Regions from separate parts of the Homo sapiens genome. Here regions 2 and 3 are each linked to region 1. Evidence: fine-mapped expression QTL. A gene starts in region 1. Each other region holds a variant in brackets. All regions are shown on one strand. Distances are from middle to middle.

Region 1 (4,240 bases):
CAAGTCCCTGTCTCAAAAACAAAAAAACAGGCCGGGTGCGGTGGCTCACGCCTGTAATCCCAGAACTTTGGGAGGCCGAGGCGGGTGGATCACAAGGTCAGGAGATCGAGACCACCCTGGCTAACACGGTGAAACCCCGTCTCTACTAAAAAATACAAAAATTAGCCTGACGCGGTGGCAGGCGCCTGTAGTTCCAGCTACTCGGGAGGCTGAGGCAGGAGAATGGCGTGAACCCTGGAGGCGGAGCTTGCAGTGAGCCGAGATCCCACCACTGCACTCCAGCCTGGCGAAAGAGCGAGACTCTGTCTCAAAAACAAAAACAAAAACAAAAAAACAACCAAGTAATACCAATTTCACCTCTGTAATTCCCTTCACATTATATCACCTCCACAGAGTTCCAACCGTCACTATTCTATATCAGACATATCTACCTAGGAGATTCTTAAAGACTGTAGTCTTCCTGTTTCTATTACTTTTCCATTAAATCTTACTCATTGCTGCTAAGGAGAATTCTGATTCTATTACACACTTTTTACTCAAAATCTTCAAAGGTTCACAAACAAATTCTGATCTTCAAAATCTACAATCCACCCGCTTTCTGGGCCCAAGTCCTATTCAGGACCTACCTCCTACTACTTCTCAAAAAAGATAAAATCCCTTCATGAAACCTACATATGCAGAAAAATTGGGCTTTTTAGCTATTTCTCTAACACCTTGCGCCTTCCCACCTCTAAGCCTTTCATGATTCCCTGAACAAACCTAGAGCACAGGCCATGCACACCAGAGAGGTAAAGGAGAAGGCTGACGGGCTAGAATGGACCTTCTTGTGAAGGGCCTTGAAGGCTGTCATAGAGTTTAAATTTCATCTTGGAAGCAGTAGAAACCAATGGAGACTAAGTCAGGGGCATGCCATCATCTTATCTCTACTTCAGAAGTGTCACTCTGGCTGTAGTGTAAGGGATCTAACAATTAGGAGAGCAACAGAGGAAGACAATCAATTCAGAGAATCAATTTAAAACAGATGTAGTAGTCTGGACAATAAATAATTAGGGCCTCAATTAAGTCAGGGACAACCAGAATGGGCAAAGGATGTAGAATCTAACAGGCTGTGGGTAGTGAGAGAGAAGAATGAGTCAAATAAATATCACTTTCAGATTTCTGGTCTGGACAGCCTTCCGGAGATTTAAAACACCGTCACAGGAATTTTCTGTAGTTAAAGAAATATTTTTTATCTTCATCCAGGTGATGATTACACGGTTTATATATTTGCTAAATTTCATCAAGCTTTACCCTTACGTTTTGTCCATTTCCCTGATTGTTAATTGTACCTCAACAAAGAACTGTTAGCACTAACAACAAAAGCCTTCATTGTTCCTAGACATAAAATATCTTTCAGTCATTGCTAAATACATAGCAAATAGTCATTTTTAACATAAAAATCTCAAGGTTCCTAACAATCTATCAACAATCTAAAGTTGTGATGAGATCTAATGAGTTCTAATAAGAGCTCATAGTCCACAACTTCAAAAGGACAGAAAAGCAGGTAACAAAGTTACCTGCTTAAATACGAAATCTATTTGCGAAGTAAATGCCCACGCAACAAGTATTTATTGTAGCCCAGTAAAAGCCTAGTCGTGTATAGTGCTGTCGATGCGGTAAAAATGTCTGCCCACACGCTCCTTTCAAGTAACTTGGGAAAAGATCATACGCGCACAAAGAACTAAAATACAGAATGACAGGAGTCGAGGAAATGTTGGAAACGCGAAGCAATAAGCAATCCAACTGGGATCACTTCTGACTGAAGTAATCAGGGCAGGCTCCCTTGAAGTGGCGGGATGTGGTGCCCAATCACTAACGTCCTGGAGGGTTGTTCCCGCTCCAGGGGCTCGAACCCTCTGATGGTAGTGCAGGGGAAGCCGTCGCTGGCCCAAACACAACCATTCCCTCAGCCGAGGTCCCCCAGCCCTTCCAATGCTCGCGGGGCAGCGCTGACCGCACGTGGGGCCGCGCCAGGCCTGGCCCGGCGGCCACCTCAACTCCCGCCTCTTCTCACGACCCCAAGAAGCCGCTCGCCCGCTAGCCCGCTCGGCGCTCTGCCTCACCGTGACTCCCGACCCATGCTGCCGACCGCGGGAATACTGGTGCCCTTGAGTACCACGCACAGGCGAACCGGACAAACAAGGAGGCTGAGCTGCCCTCAACGCCCGGCAAAGACCAGCGCTAAACACTAGCAGCACCTACAGCTGTGGCGGCCATCCCAGCGCGGCCAACGAAAACAGGACGTGCTGGCGCCGGCAGCCGAAGGAAGAGAAAAGCCGACCGGAAGCTGCCGCTCTTCCACAGCGCCCCACCTCGACTGGAGGACGCACAGCGCCGGCCCCATCGAAAGGTGATGCCTTCGCCCCGCCCAGTCTTCCCGGCGCCCGCACCACGCCCGGCTGATTAGTGCGATGGAGCGCAGCGCGTCAGCCTCGCCGGCCCGTGAGGGTGTTTCGCGCCAGAGCCAAAGAGGCGTCCTGGGCAGGCTGATGTCTGCCTTAATTTGCGCTAAATAATGCGGCAACTTTCTCCGTACACGCTCTTTATTCATGTATACATTCACTCATTTATTTATGTTGTCATATGCCAGGCTTGTGCTAGATCCTGGGGAGCTCACAGTCTATCCGGGAAACAGATGACTAAAGCCAGCACAGTGGCTCACGCCTGAAATCCCAGCACTTTGGGAGGCTGAGGCGGGAGGATCTATTGAGCCCAGGAATTCAAGACCTGGGCAACGTAGCCCTCGTCTCTGCAAAGAAAATAGTAATAATAATAGACTTGACTAAAAACACAAGCAGAAGTAATACAGCAAGGAGAGTCCACCATTGGAGACGGATTCAGAAAACACGTTTCCCTTGGAAGTGAACTCTGAGGTGAGATTTGAAGACCCGGTAGGTGTTAACCTAGTAGAGAACAAAGAGCTAAAAATACTTTGGCAAAAGATTAGTTCTCAACATTGCTTGCACTGGGAAGCTTAAAAATAAAACAAAAAAACAAAAAAAGGGCCAGCCATGGTGGCTCATGCCTATAATCCCAGCACTTTGGGAGGCCGAGGCAGGAGGATGGCTTGAGCCCAGGAATTCAAGACCTACCTGGGCAACATAGCGAGACCCTCTACAAAAAATAAGCAAAATAATTAGCCAGGTGTGCTGGCACGCCTGTGGTTCTAGCTACTTGGGAGGCTGAGGTGAGAGGATCATTTGAGCCAGGGAGGCTGAGGCAAGAAGATTACTTGAGCCCAGGAGTTTGAGGCTGCAGTGAGCTATGATGACTCCAGCCTGGGTAGCACAGAGAAATCTCATCTCTAAAATATTAGTAAATAAAATAGAAGCCTGGGTTCCACCCCTATGTTCTGATTTAATTGGCCTGGAGTGCTTCTTGTGCACTGGGAATTTTTAAGCTTCCCAGGTAATTCTGAAGTACAGTCAAGATTGAGAACATTATTCGAGAGTTTGGGCACCAAAAAAATGTATATGTATTGTCTCATGCAACACACACAGAAATGTTGAATTTTTTTTGTTTTTTTTTTTTGAGACGGAGTTTCGCTTTTGTTGCCCAGGCTGGAGTGCAATGGTGAGAGCTCAGCTCACCACAACCTCCACCTCCTGGGTTCAAGCGATTCTCCTGCCTCAGCCTCCCAAGTAGCTGGGATTACAGGCATGCACCACCACCCCAGCTTATTTTGTATTTTTAGTAGAGATGGGGTTTCTCCATGTTGGTCAGGCTGGTCTTGAACTCTCGACCTCAGGAGACCTGCCCGCCTCGGCCTCCCAAAGTGCTGGGATTACAGGCATGAGCCACCGTGCCCGGCCATGTTGAGTTGTTTTTGCAAAAAGCTATAATGGAGTTGGAGAAAGGCTCATATTTTTACTTTACTTGCCTCTGTACTATTTTACTTTCTTACACCTAAAGATGATGGAAAAGTTCTGTGTCTTGATTTTAGTGGTCATTGAATAGATTTGCACATTTTTCAAAATTCACTGAACTGTACCCTTTAACTGTACATGACTTATTGTATGTAAATTTTACCTCAACATAGTTGATTAAAGAAAAAAAGCAAACCAACGAGTGACACTCCAAGATGAGTTTATGCTCCCCACGCCCCCCGTGGCTTGCTGCCCACCTGTGGTAGCTGCGAGAAGCATTGAAGAGGGATAGAGACTGGAGGTTCTGGCAGTCCATGCCAAGGGTAAGAAGGCCT
Region 2 (4,240 bases), 79 kb after region 1:
ACTTAACCTAACATCATACCTACCACTTATAATACACTAGTGGTCAAAGAGTATTTTCTAAATTAATTATCATTGTATCTGTCTTCCTACTAATTGTTTAGAAATTCAAATCCCTATGCACTCTAAAGGTTAAGCTATAGTTCAGGAAATAGCCTGGTTTGCAGATGAAAGGGGCTTCAACTTTTATTATAATTTCATTTTGTATATTAAAGCACCTACACATAAAAATTTTAAAGGTAACTAAATACTTCATGTACATTTTCAGAATTGTTACAGTGCAAGAGAAAGTTCTTAGCCTATCCTTACTTTTCTATACTCAAAACACACACACACACACACACACACACACACACACACAAACAATAAAACTGTTTTTTTGTTTTGTTTTATTTGTTTGTTTGAGATGGAGTTTTGCTCTTGTTGCCAAGGCTGGAGTGCAATGGTGCAATCTCGGTTCACTGCAACCTCCGCCTCCCGGGTTCAAGCGATTCTCCTGCCTCAGCCTCCCGAGTAGCTGGGATTACAGGTGCCCGCCACCACACCCAGCTAATTTTTTTATATTTTTAGTAAAGATGGGGTTTCACTACATTGGCCAGGCTGGTCTCAAACTCCTGACCTTAGGTGATCCACCCACCTCAGCCTCCCAAAGTGTTGGGATTACAGGCATGAGCCACTGCACCTGGCTCTGTTTTGTTTGTTTTTGAGACAGAGTCTCGCTCTGTCGCCCAGGCTGGAGTGCAATGACTCGATTTCGGCTCACTGAAACCTTTGCTTCCTGGGTTCAAGCGATTCTCCTGCCTCAGCCTCCCGAGTAGCTGGGATTATAGGTGCCCGCCACCACACCCGGCTAATTATTGTATTTTTAGTAAAGATGGGGTTTCACTGTGTTGGCCACACTGATCTCGAACTCCTGACCTCAGGTGATCCACCGCCTCGGCCTCCCAAAGTGCTGAGATTAGAGGCGTAAGCCACCGTGCCCATCCAATAAAACTGGTTTTTAAAAACTCTTGGCCAGGGCTGGGTGTGTTCTCGGGAGGCTGAGGCAGGAGAATTGCTTGAACCTGGGAGGCAGAGAGGTTTCAGTGAGCTGAGATCATGCCACTACACTCCAGCCTGGCGACAGAGCCAGACTCTGTCTCAAAAACAAACAAACAAAAACAAACTCTTGGCCGGGTGCAGTGGCTCATGCCTGTTAATCCCAGCACTTTGGGAGCCTGAGGTGGGCAGATCACTTGAGGTCAGGAGTTCTAGACCAGCCTGGCCAAAACGGTGAAACTCCACCCCTACTAAAAATATAAAAATTAGCCGGCCGTGGTGGTGGATGCCTGTAATTCCAGCTACTCAGGAGGCTGAGGCAGGAGAATCGCTTGAACCTGGGAGGCGGAGGTTGCAGTGAGCCAAGATCGTGCCACTGCACTCAAGCCTGGGCAACAGAGTGAGACTCCATCTCAAAAACAAAAACAAAAACAAAACTCTTATATTCCTCTATTTCTCAAATCTTTCAAATAGACACTGTGGATACTGGCATACCCACTTCCTTCTCTAATACTAACAGAACCCTGTTGATTACATTATAGTCCTCAAATAAAAACTGTGACATAGTTATTGAGAGAAATCTCCTCCTCCTCAATTACTGAGAAAACTACATTCAACTAACCTTCTAGCACTGCCTACTTCCCTTCATTCAGCAGTGAATGAATTGGGCAGCTATTCTGTGGACTTATTTTCTTTCACCCTAGAGAAAAGGCGTGGGACAATTTCTAAATAAAAATGTTTCTTAAATTCCTGGCTTAAGTAATACCATGAAATATACCACTTATTATATACCCAATACAATGTAAAAATGGGATATCCATGTAATACTATCATTATTTTTTGCTTAAAAAATAAATAATTAAATTTATTTATAAATATAAACGCACAGAAAAAAGTTACCTGTAGTTTTCTCTGAGTGGAAGGATTGACTAGAGGTAAATAAAAGGGTTTTTTTTTTTTAACTGTGCATTTGTATCATCTGATTTCCCTACAATGCAAGTAGAAACGTTTAAATGTTTCAAAAAAGCATCCCATACCATCATTGACTCGATAACATAAGTTACACTTCCATCTCCTTTGATCAAGAAAGCTGACGAAAGGATTGATGTACGTCCTGCATGAACGGCATCTCACAATTGTACTGGAGGTAACCACAGGCAATTGCTGGAAAAAAAAAAACAGAATTAAATTTTTAAAGGCAAAAATCATCATGTTGAAAACATAAGCATGAATCCATCCTGTCTAAATAACTGTTGGGATATTATCATTTTAGAGAAAACTTAGAGTACAAGATGTATCTAAACTGCCATACACAAAAACCATGTAGTTGAAATGTATTAATTTTAAACCCTACTATTTTGCTCCAAGACCATTCTCATTAAAAGTTGTCTTAAAAAAAAAAATTATTGGCTGGGGACAGTGGCTCACATGTGTAACTCCAGCACTTTGGGAGCCAAGGCGGAAGGA[T/C]TGCTTGAGGCCAGGAGTTTGAGACCGGCCTGGGCAACATAGTGAAACATGACCCTCTCAAAAGATTTAAAAAATTAGCCCAGTGTGGTGAGCTGGGTTGAAGTGGGAGCATCACTTGAGCCTGGGAGGTCAAGGCTGCAGTGAGCCATGACTGAGCCACTGCACTCCAACATGGGCAACAGAGCAAGACCCAGTCTCAAAAAATAAAATAAAATAAAAATGTAAAAACCATTTTTTTCCTCATTAAACACTCATATTGCAAAACCAAAATAGCAGGCCAGGCACAGTGGCTAACACCTATGTCTAAAATCCCAGCACTCTGGTGGGAGGCCAAGGCAGGAAGATTACTTGAGGCCAGGAGTTTGAGACCAACCTGGGCAAGAAAGTAAGACCCTGTCTCTATTTTAAAAATAAAAATAGGCTGGGCGTGGTGGCTCATGCCTGTAATCCCAGCACTTTGGGAGGCCAAGGCGGGTGGAACGCGAGGTCAGGAGTTCAAGACCAGCCTGGCCAACGTGGTGAAACCTCGTCTATACTAAAAATACAAAAATTAGCTAGGCGTAGTGGCAGGTGCCTATAATCCCAGCTACTCAGGAGGCTGAGGCAGGAGAATTGCTTCAACCCTGGGAGGCAGAGGTTGCAGTGAGCCAAGATTACACCACTGTACTCCAGCCTGGGCAACAGAGCAAGACTCCATCTTGGAAATAAATTAAAAAAATATATATATATATATCCCAGTGCTTTGGAAGGCCAAAGCAGGAGGATCACTTGAGGCTGGGAGGTAGAGACCAACCTGAGCAACACAGCAACAGCCCATCTCTACCAAAAAAAAAGAGTTTTTAAATAAATAAATAATAAGTTAAAAAAATAAAACCAAGATGGTAAATTTACAATGTACTTTTGGCATAAATGGCAAAGAAAAAAAAATCAACATTCTAAAATATATGACCAATGAAACTATTACAAAGTTTGTTGATGTTACATTAAGAAGCTTACTTAGTTCTCAACTATAATAAAGTAAGGTGAGGTTAATTTAAATAACCAGTTAAACTTTGGAATTACACTCCTAGTTAAAGTTTATCCTACATATTAAAAGTTCTAAAGTCTTAGCTGGGTATAGTGGCCAATGCCTACAGTACCACTTACTCTGTCTGGAGGCTGAGGCAGGAGGACTGCTTGAGCCCAAGAGTTCAAGGCTGCAGTGAGCTATGATCATGGAACTGCACTCTAACCTGGGTGACAACGAGAGACCCGGTCTCTAATAAATAAATAAATAAATAACAGTAAATACGTGGGAAGGGTCTTTGTAAGACTATCAGATTTGGGGAGATTTGTTTTGATTTACCAGAAACCCTGAGACAGGTGAACACTGATCAACTTAACTGAGAGCCAGTGCCTTGGACAACAAAGTGACATAGCATCTCATCTTTAAAGAAAGGTTTTATTTATCTTTTTTTTTTTTTTTGAGACAGTCTCACTCTATTGCCCAGACTGGAGTACAGTGTGGGATCTTGGCTCACTGCAACCTCCACCTCCCGGGTTCAAGCGATTCCCTTGCCTCAGCCTCCCCAGTAGCTGGGATTATAGGTGTGCATCACCATGCTTGGCTAAATTTTCTATTTCTGGTAGAGACGAGTTTCACCACGTTGGCCAGGCTGGTCTTGAATTCCTGACCTCAGGTGATCTGCCCGCCTCAGCCTCCCAAAGTGCTAGGATTACAGGTGTGAGCCACTGCACC
Region 3 (4,240 bases), 190 kb before region 1:
TTCAACTTTAATTAAAAATAATGAAAATTATTAAGCAAAATGCAAGGCAAGATCATTGCCAAGCACGCACATGTCACAGGACAGGACCTTCCCCTGGTGTTGGTGACTTATCAATCACATAAACACTGTCTAGTGCACCAAGTAAAGGCATTCTTTGCCACAGAACATGATTACATGTCTCACCAAGACTTTCACGTGGAACACTGTTAACTGTTCTAGCCGCTGCAAAGGAAACGTCAGATTTTAATTGTAGGCAACACAAGAATATTCTCAACTAAACTGTGAGGAACAGATCCAACCAAAGATGTATTTAATCCATGCTTTTTTTCTCTGGACTGTCAGACATATTTTTAGCACACTGGTCAACTAAGTTCAGTTCCTAGCTCTGCTATTCACTAGCTATATGACCTCAGAAAAGTTACTTAACTTTTGAAACGAGTTTCAGTTTCCCCATACGTAAAAGGAGCTAATTCATGTAATATACTTTACAGTATGCCTGGCACTCTATTAAGAACTCAGTTAATGCTAGTGATTATTATCATCATCAATAACACTTTGATATTATAGTGTCTGTGGCCTGGAAAGGAAGAATTCCTTTCCAAACCTAGCAGAAGACCAATTTGAAGGCCAAAGAAATTCACCTTTACAAGGCTCAGAAAACCAGAAACATCTTTAGCACTGTTTCTCTGAGTGGGTGTCGGCACGGGAAGATTTCCTTGCGGAACTGGCAATCTGTCAGCGAGCATCTCAGCCAAGCAGGTGACTCATGTCTCCCTGAGGAAGTGGGGCTAAAGGCCTGCTTGAGGACCATTCCCTGTGCAGTCCCTTGTGTGTCTGGGGGCAGACACAACTCCCACCAATCCTAAGCCACTAGTCTACTTGCCATCTACTTGATCCGCCACAGAGCTCAACATTTCCAATAACTCAGGCCAAGAATATCCAACTATGAAATTAAAACTGGCTTCTCCAGGCACTGAAGACAACATCCACAAGCTACTGAAAAAGCTGCCTGCTCTTCCAGGCCCCAGACGAAATGAGTCCCCCTTAGCTCATGGTAATAAGTACATTTTTTAAATGTCACTGAACAGGTCAACACCTGTGAGATAGCATGCTCACTTCTAAACACTGCTTTCAAAAGCTGTTTTCATACTGTAGCATTTTAGAGCCTTTTAAAAAAAAAAAAAAAAGCTTCAAGTCACTATTCTTGGCAATTGCCATAATAGCCTACACAGCCAATTGAAAAAATATGGCAACTCTTTAGCTAATGACATGGTACCATCTTCAACATATACTGTTAAATGAAAAGCAAGGTGCAAAACAACTTTCTTTTGCAGAATTAGGACTTTCAATACATCAGTAAATTTCTACTGAATTCCCAGGCTAGGAAAACTCCTCTTAGATAGGAGTATATTAATATAAATCCACTATTCTCCAGGTGGCAGGGTTTACATCCACAAAAAAAAACTCTACACACGATTTTACCAAAAGGCCCTTCATTTCTGTTTCATTTTTAGTGAAAGTTCTCTAACTAGATAGAGTTCACACAGCTGATGTATACCAAAAAGACATTCTGGCCAAGGTGATCACTAGCTATGAGTATCTTTTCCCTGAAGAGACACTACCGGTTTCCAAATTCCTCTGCACCTAAGTTTAAATTCATTTCGCCATATCTTCATCAGCTACTATTGGGCAGACCAATTGCCCAGTCTGATTAGCTCTTTCTTAAATTTCTCACAATCTTTCAGTTTTGAATTAGCACATTTCACCAGTTTTCTACCCATTCTTTTCTCCTAAAGCAAACAGAAGCACTGGTTTTAAAACCACCCCAAGAGAAGCCCCTTACCAGAGTTCCCTGGTGTCAAAATAACTTGTGATGCTTTGCAATTCACTGGGGCTGTTCATTATTGCCAATCAGCTGCCTCAGAAAAGTCCTGTTGGAGGTTTTCTTCCCTAATCTGCTGATAATCCTTATTTGTTGGCTTTCAGAGTCTTATGAGGTGAGAGGTATTGCAAAGATTACCAAAGTTTAGTTAGTTTTGTTTTAGCAATCCTTTTAAAAATTGTATTTAAGCTCCTTGGTACTGTCATCATTATAAAATTATAAGAAATTCTACTTTATATAAAAAAAAAA[C/AC]GACTTCATAGGCTTCAACTTTGTGCTTCCGAACCACTAAGATACACAAAGTACCTGCCCAAATATATTTTTAAAAATTGAGGTCAGGGGGCCGAGCGCGGTGGCTCACATCTGTAATCTCAGCACTTTGGGAGGCCGAGGCGGGTGGATCATAAGGTCAGGAGATCAAGACAATCCTGGCTAACATGGTGAAACCCTGTCTCTACTAAAAATACAAAAAATTAGCCAGGCGTGGTAGTGGGCACCTGTAGTGCCACCTACTCGGGAGGCTGAGGCAGGAGAATGGCATGAACCCAGGAGCTTGCAGTGAGCCAAGACTGCGCCACTGCACTCCAGCCTGGGTGACAGAGCGAGACTCCGTCTCAAAAAAAAAAAAAAAAAAAAAATTGAGGCCGGGCGCGATGGCTGTAACCCCAGCACTTTGGGAGACCAAGGCAGGCAGATTACCTGAGGTCAGGGGTTTGAGACCAGCCTGACCAACATGGAGTAAACCCCGTCTCTACTAAAAACACAAAATTAGCCAAGTGTGGTGGCACATGCCTGTAATCCCAGCTACTCGGGAGGCTGAGGCAGGATAATCGCTTGAACCCAGGAGGCAGGGATTGCAATGAGCCATTATCGCACTATGGCACTCCAGCCTGGGCAACAAGAGCAAAACTCCATCTCAAAAAAAAAAAAAATTTTTTTTTTTAATAGCATGCAAAATGACAGTCTACTCCCTAACTTTTCTTCTTTATAATCAACTGGTTCCTTTCAGGAGACATAACTACTACTAACACTACATAATTCCAGTTTATATATGACATAAAACTATCTTGCCCTATTACTGTAATAAAAATAATTTCTATGGATCTAGTTTTAAAGAGAGAGAAGGCAAAAGGGCTTCTGCTTAAGTTGGGATGTGTTAAGCTGAAAGTCAAGATGCTACAATAACAACCAAAAGGGTGGAGGAAGAGAACAAGTGCTCTGGGCAGAAAGAATGCCTACTCCCCCATCATCTGTGGGGCAGCCACAGCGACTCAAAAAATATTTTAAGGAAACAAAGCAACACCTAAGTTTGGCTTAGTGGTACAGTAAATACATTTTCTATAAGCAGTACACATTTTGTAAAATAGAGTATCATCCCATTTCACATCACAAAATATCTGATGTTCTAAAGCAGTTGCACACCATCAATGAAATCATGTTTATCCTTTCTTTTGCTTATTTTTAAACTGGGAATCCATTCCCCTTTTAAAAGTTTTTAAAGCACAGTTTCTGCAACATTTGCTAATATTTTCTGCAAGAAAAGTACATCATCCAAATATTAGCTCCTGGTAACTCCACAGAGGAACTTCAGTGATAAACGGCAGCAATGTGTCCATGGAAGAAAAAAGCCTGCCAGAGCCATGTTTCAGAAAACTGTGTCAAGCAAGAAGCCCAGCAAAGAAACCGTCTCATAAGTTGTCTGTATTTGTTTCAAAATCCACACACAGGTTGCAAACTTGGAATAGTCCCTGAACCTGTGAGAATCTTCAGACATCGAGCTGAAGGAAACCACAAATATATTCAGGATTTATCCTTAACCTGTTATTTTTCTCTCCTTAAGCCTACCCAACCTATAAGGGTAGGCTTAAGGAGAGAAACATTCCTACCCTTATAGATGGAAAGTAGGGATTTTTTGTTTTTGTTTTAAACAATCTTATTTAAGTATATTTATTTATTTAATAATAATTTTAATTATTTGTTAAAGAAAAATACCAGGGCTTATAGCCACAAAGAAAGGAAAGTAAGCTTAGCACTTAAACCCTATTTTTGGTATCAAAGACAAAGTCTGGTGGGTGGTATCCTTATATCCTGAAAAATGCTAATCCTAGCTATGTCTCATTCTATGGCCTTCAGCAAATCCTAAACCTCTCTTGCCTCTACTACTCTGTAAATCTGAGGCTCTGTTACTTCTTAACATCACTACTGGGTGTGAGGAGGTCTCACAAAAATGCACAGTGCTTTGCGCAGAAAATGTGCTTCTTTGGGACACTGAAGCGGTTCCAATTTGCTGGAATCATACATAAAGTAATTTTATGCCACTTTTTTAAAATCTAGAAAATTTGTTCTGTGTAGCCAAACTTA

Which allele goes with the higher level. Positions count from the first base shown, and alleles are read on the strand shown. Sizes are in standard deviations (SD) of each study's normalised expression. Not every link is listed here.
As copies of T replace C in region 2, the expression in monocytes after R848 of the gene that starts at base 2,279 in region 1 goes down (large effect, 0.93 SD a copy in Quach 2016).

What was found. PIP is the estimated chance that this variant, and not a neighbour inherited with it, causes the effect. A credible set is the group of variants that fine-mapping cannot tell apart.
Region 2: its variant is the best candidate, but not a certain one, in a credible set for the expression of DDX46 in monocytes after R848 (Quach 2016, PIP 0.54).
Region 3: its variant is the best candidate, but not a certain one, in a credible set for the expression of DDX46 in whole blood (INTERVAL, PIP 0.70).

Annotation. Positions count from the first base shown.
Region 1 is chr5:134,756,818-134,761,057 of GRCh38, reverse strand. DDX46 (DEAD-box helicase 46) reads right to left here and starts at 2,279. Exons shown (of 23, transcript NM_001300860.2): 1 at 2,103-2,279. The coding sequence starts at 2,119. RefSeq lists an enhancer at 2,015-2,504.
Region 2 is chr5:134,677,561-134,681,800 of GRCh38, reverse strand. SEC24A (SEC24 homolog A, COPII component) reads right to left here. Exons shown (of 23, transcript NM_021982.3): 8 at 2,073-2,199. Among named protein-coding and RNA genes, the nearest start is that of SEC24A, 31 kb to the right of the region's middle. The variant T/C (reference allele first, on the strand shown) is at 2,503.
Region 3 is chr5:134,945,667-134,949,906 of GRCh38, reverse strand. All of the region lies in intron 2 of PCBD2 (pterin-4 alpha-carbinolamine dehydratase 2), which reads right to left. Among named protein-coding and RNA genes, the nearest start is that of CATSPER3, 20 kb to the left of the region's middle. The variant C/AC (reference allele first, on the strand shown) is at 2,132.